Regions from separate parts of the Homo sapiens genome. Here region 2 is linked to region 1. Evidence: fine-mapped QTL for protein levels in blood plasma. Region 1 holds a variant in brackets. A gene starts in the other region. All regions are shown on one strand. Distances are between the middles of the regions.

Region 1 (2,922 bases):
TATGTGTCCAGGAATTTATCCATTTCTTCTAGATTTTCTAGTTTATTTGCGTAGAGGTGTTTGTAGTATTCTCTGATGGTAGTTTGTATTTCTGTGGGATCGATGGTGATATCCCCTTTATCATTTTTTATCACGTCTACTTGATTCTTCTCTCTTTTCTTCTTTATTAGTCTTGCTAGCGGTCTATCAATTTTGTTGATCCTTTCAAAAAACCAGCTCCTGGACTCATTAATTTTTTGAAGGGTTTTTTGTGTCTCTATTTCCTTCAGTTCTGCTCTGATTTTAGTTATTTCTTGCCTTCTGCTAGCTTTTGAATGTGTTTGCTCTTGCTTGTCTAGTCGTTTTAATTGGGATGTTAGGGTGTCAATTTTGGATCTTCCCTGCTTCTCTTGTGGGCATTTAGTGCTATAAATTTCCCTCTACACACTGCTTTGAATGCATCCCAGAGATTCTGGTATGTTGTGTCTTTGTTCTCGTTGGTTTCAAAGAACATCTTTATTTCTGCCTTCATTTCGTTATGTACCCAGTAGTCATTCAGGAGCAGGTTGTTCAGTTCCCATGTAGTTGAGTGGTTTTGCGTGAGATTCTTAATCCTGAGTTCTAGTTTGATTGCATTGTGTTCTGAGAGATAGTTTGTTATAATTTCTGTTCTTTTACATTTGCTGAGGAGAGCTTTACTTCCCAGTATGTGGTCAATTTTGGAATAGGTGTGGTGTGGTGCTGAAAAAAATGTATATTCTGTTGATTTGTGGTGGAGAGTTCTGTAGATGTCTATTAGGTCCACTTGGTGCAGAGCTGAGTTCAATTCCTGGGTATGGGTATCCTTGTTGACTTTCTGTCTTGTTGATCTGTCTAATGTTGACAGTGAGGTGTTAAAGTCTCCCATTATTAATGTGTGGGAGTCTAAGTCTCTTTGTAGGTCACTCAGGACTTGCTTTATGAATCTCGGTGCTCCTGTATTGGATGCATATATATTTAGGATAGTTAGCTGTTCTTGTTGAATTGATCTCTTTACCATTATGTGATGGCCTTCTTTGTCTCTTTTGATCTTTGTTGGTTTAAAGTCTGTTTTATCAGAGACTAGGATTGCAACCCCTGCCTTTTTTTGTTTTCCATTTGCTTGGTAGATCTTCCTCCATCCTTCTATTTTGAGCCTATGTGTGTCTCTGCATGTGAGATGGGTTTCCTGAATACAGCACCCTGATGGGTCTTGACTCTTTATCCAATTTGCCAGTCTGTGTCTTTTAATTGGAGCATTTAGTCCATTTCCATTTAAAGTTAATATTGTTATGTGTGAATTTGATCCTGTCATTATGATGTTAGTTGGTTATTTTGCTCGTTAGTTGATGCAGTTTCTTCCTAGTCTCGATGGTCTTTACATTTTGGCATGATTTTGCAGTGGCTGGTACCGGTTGTTCCTTTCCATGTTTAGTGCTTCCTTCAGGAGCTCTTGCAAGGCAGACCTGGTGGTGACAAAATCTCTCAGCATTTGCTTGTCTGTAAAGGATTTTATTTCTCCTTCACTTTTGAAGCTTAGTTTGGCTGGATATGAAATTCTGGGTTGAAAATTCTTTTCTTTAAGAATGTTGAATATTGGCCCCCATTCTCTTCTGGCTTC[T/C]AGGGTTTCTGCAGAGAGATCCACTGTTAGTCTGATGGGCTTCCCTTTGAGGGTAACCCGACCTTTCTCTCTGGCTGCCCTTAACATTTTTTCCTTCATTTCAACTTCGGTGAATCTGACAATTATGTGTCTTGGAGTTGCTGTTCTCGAGGAGTATCTTTGTGGCATTCTCTGTATTTCCTGAATCTGAGTGTTGGCCTGCCTTGCTAGATTGGGGAAATTCTCCTGGATAATATCCTGCAGAGTGTTTTCCAACTTGGTTCCATTCTCCCCATCACTTTCAGGTATGCCAGTCAGACGTAGATTTGGTCTTTTCACATAGTCCCATATTTCTTGGAGGCTTAGCTCATTTATTTTTATTCTTTTTTCTCTAAACTTCCCTTCTCGCTTCATTTCATTCATTTCATCTTCCATCACTGATACCCTTTCTTCCAGTTGATTGCATCGGCTCCTGAGGCTTCTGCATTCTTCACGTAGTTCTCGAGCCTTGGTTTTCAGCTCCATCAGCTCCTTTAAGCACTTCTCTGTATTGGTTATTCTAGTTATACATTCTTCTAAATTTTTTTCAAAGTTTTCATCTTCTTTGCCTTTGGTTTGAATGTCCTCCCTTAGCTCAGAGTAATTTGATCGTCTGAAGCCTTCTCTCAGCTTGTCAAAGTCATTCTCCATCCATCTTTGTTCTGTTGCTTGTGAGGAACTGCGTTCCTTTGGAGGAGGAGAGGCGCTCTGCTTTTTGGAGTTTCCAGTTTTTCTGTTCTGTTTTTTCCCCATCTTTGTGGTTTTATCTACTTTTGGTCTTTGATGATGGTGATGTACAGATGGGTTTTTGGTGTGGATGTCCTTTCTGTTTGATTTGATTTATGTATATGGCAAATTAGTAGCTTTTATGTGGATCTCTTGCGATGTTTATATAAAGGATCATGTATTCTACAAAGTAGTTTCCGTGTTTCATTTCCAATTGTAATGCCTTTTATTTCTTAATTTTGCCTAATTGCTCCAGCTAAAACTTTCAGTACACTTTTCAATAGCAGTGGTGAAAGTGGGCAACCCTATTTTGTTCCTGATTTTATTGGGAAACTTTTGTCTTTCACTTTTGTGTATGATTTAGCTATGAATTTTTTACAAATGCCTTCTATTATGTGGAGAAAGTTCTGTTCTACTCCAGGTTTCTGGGTAGTTTTTTGTTATGAAAGTATGTTAGATTTTGTCAGATGTTTTCAATGCACTAATTTTTCCTGATTCTATTAATGTGATGTATTACATTGATTGAAATTCTTATGTGGAAACACCCTTGTGTTCCTCAG
Region 2 (2,914 bases), 11 Mb after region 1:
GCAGTTCTGCTTTCCTCAGGATGCTCCACAAGTCTGATCCACTGTCCCCGCCTTCACTAACACCCAGCCTCCTTCTCTTCTTTATCTCCCAACCCTAGATGCTCAAGGTTGTTGGACACGTCCAGGCATGTTCTCAGAGGCAATGCAGGTCCAGTAAGAGCCTACAGGAAATGGCTCGCCAAGATCCTAGAGATGTCAGCCCAGATCCCTGATACCTCAGAAAGCGCTCTCCGGACACAAATGGATGGACTGACAGCCAGCCACAGGGCGCCTTCCCAATTGTTCTGATTTTGCGGTACCCTAGCAGGATCATCCTGACCTGATTCTGTACTTCTGCACCTAGATGCCGCAGGTCCCAGCCGCCTTGCCACACCAGGGGGTGTTCCCACACTCACCCGGTAACGGACGAGTAGATGGCTCTTGCTCCCAAATGGGACTCCGGTACAAATCCACCTCAGCGCAGAGCACACATCTCACCCAGCCCCCTCCCGTCACCCCCCGCCCTTCACCCCGCGCCCCTCAGCCCCCGCCCCTCAGACCCGCCCATCAGCCCCGCCCCTCAGCCCCCGCCCCTCAGCCCCCAGCCTGCATACACACTCACAGTATATGAAATTCCTTGTAATCAAAGTTCCGCTTGACTCATTTCACATCCACGTGTAGCAACAACAGCCCAAACCCTCCTTTCACGGTAAGCTTACCTCTTCCGCCCCCGTGAAGTTCCTAGAGCAGCTATTGGACTGTTTGAGTGCCTAGGCGTGGCTACGAAAAGAAACTGCCTTTGAGAGGAACAATGTGAGGCTGAAGAACAGTGACCCAGCCACTGGTATGGCAGGAGCTGCAAATCTCCTGGGACTGAAGCGGGGGCCAGAGAGTAGAGGGCCAGGGAGTGGGGTCCAGAGAAAGCATCAAGTTGTCTCTTTCACAGCTGAATGCAGCTCAGCTCATCAAAGTTTATTCATGACTTAGCAGGCTTGGAGTTTGACAGGGAAAATTATTGTTGGAAAAGCCAAAATTTTCAGACACATGGAGAAGCCGCTTTCCAGCTCTGCATCTGCCTCAAAAAAATACTCCTCCATTCAGAAGGGTAGATAGGATTGTGACAGGAGGAAGAGAGCAGACATGAAGCAGGGAAAAGACCACTAAAAATAAAGGAAAATTGGATTCGGCACTCAGCTTTGATCATCCATCTTCTCTGGGCCCCTGAGTGTCTGTACAAGGAGGGGGTTGAGCTACGTAGTCTCTAAGGGCACTTCAAACAATGACACTTTGGGAGTTTATTAATCCATGATCTCAGAGGCAGCGGTGGATAAATCCCGAAACGTTACTAGTCCCTGACCTTGAAGAGTTTGCAGAGCTGGGAAGATAAAGTAGACCGGACAGAGACAGAGAATTAAGGGCCAAACTATGAGGTGCAGACTGGAAGGGTTTGGGGGCCAGTAGGAAGAAGGAGTAAAAAAGAGTCTGACAAGGAAAGCAAATGCTTTTCAATAGATTAGGAGCTTTTAAAAGAGGTCAAAGAGGAAATAGCCTAATGGGTAGAGGAAAAGAAAAGCTTGAGCCAAGGTATGGGGGAGAGGACCAAGAAATGAGCCATTATCAGTCTCTGAGGGACCCCTCCTGTACTGGGCAGAGGCTATATGCCAGCTCAGGGTGGAGTCTCAGTAAAGCAGCTGAAAAGCCTTTGGTGGGAAAGGGCTGAATAGGCCCTAAGCTGAAGTAGAAAAAGTCCTAAATGAACTTCATATCTGTCCCCTAGCTAGAGTTAAGACCAGAATAGGCTACTGTGGGCTCAGGCCTAGTAGAAGGGAAAACTGCCAGAATTGGAATCCTAGGTCTGCCCCTTACTAGCTTTGTGACCTAAGGCAAGTTACTTAACCACTCTGTGGCTCAGGATTCTCTTCTGTAAAGTGGGGAAAATAACAATCCCTTACTCATAGGATTGTTTTAGGTATTATATGAGTTAATATACAAAATAGTGTTCATATGCGTAAGGAGCTTAGAATGATTTCTGGGACGTAGTGGTATAGAAGTGTTTATTAAATATAAATAAATACATGAATGCAATTTAGGGACCTCTGAAATCATCTGTGAGATTCAAATGAAAATAGCTACCCTGGGTACCTCCTAATTCTGTTCTGTCCTTTCCTAGAAAACAGGACCTCTTCTTTTTCTCCATCCTTTCCTACCCAGAGAAGCTGAATTACAGACAGTTTTGAAACTTTAGTGTAAAGAACCCTAGCTTGGAATTTAGATGTCTTGACAAAACTAAGTGTAACATCATGTAAATCTCTTCCTCTCTCTTAGTTTTCCTTTCTGCATCTGTATCCTGAAGAGACTGTTGGACTGGATGACCTTGAAACGCTAGAGCCGTGCTTCTCTCATATTAATGTGCACACAAATCACCTAAGGATCTTGTTAAAACACAGATTCTGAGTTAGCAGCTGTGGTGTGGGACTAAGACTCTGATTTTCTAACTGCTTCCAGGTGATATTGATGGTGCTGGGCCACAGACCATAGTTTTAGTAGCAAAGGTTTAGAAGGTGGACAAGAATAACATTTACTGAGCACCTATAAATCATGCATATGTGTCCCTTTATACCTTACAACCATTCTATGAGGTTGAGGTTACCATCCTCATTTTGTAGATGAAGAGGCTCCTTGTACTCTGTGATTCTGCCTGGAAGTACAGGAGGAAACTTGAGATAGAGGTACCAGGGATATGTCAGAGTCCACAAGCTATTGTGGAAAGTGATTATAAGCAGCAAATATGAAACCACTGTCCTCCACCATAACTTGTCCAATAATACTATAACAGTTAGCTGGCCCTCACTAAGCACTTGCCAGGCACTGCTCAAATTTTTTTCATGAATTAATTCATTTTATCTTCATAATCTATGAAGCCACAATCATTAGA

Which allele goes with the higher level. Alleles are on the strand shown, and positions count from the first base shown. The strength of an association depends on the size of the effect and on how common the allele is.
For the plasma level of the protein whose gene starts at base 479 in region 2, T is the high allele of the variant in region 1 and C is the other (moderate association).

The links. A credible set is the group of variants that fine-mapping cannot tell apart. PIP is the posterior inclusion probability: the model's chance that the variant is causal. The UK Biobank Pharma Proteomics Project read protein levels with antibody pairs (Olink). The fine-mapping took linkage between variants from a reference panel, not from the people measured, so its PIPs are less certain.
Region 2: it holds the start of EDA2R, and the variant in region 1 is the best candidate, but not a certain one, in a credible set for the plasma level of the EDA2R protein (UK Biobank, PIP 0.87).

What each region holds. Positions count from the first base shown.
Region 1 is chrX:56,078,878-56,081,799 of GRCh38, forward strand. All of the region lies in intron 1 of LOC124900486 (a long non-coding RNA gene), which reads left to right. It also overlaps a transcript of KLF8 not described here. Among named protein-coding and RNA genes, the nearest start is that of KLF8, 150 kb to the right of the region's middle. The variant T/C (reference allele first, on the strand shown) is at 1,619.
Region 2 is chrX:66,638,600-66,641,513 of GRCh38, forward strand. EDA2R (ectodysplasin A2 receptor) reads right to left here and starts at 479. Exons shown (of 7, transcript NM_021783.5): 1 at 396-479. RefSeq lists an enhancer at 1-299.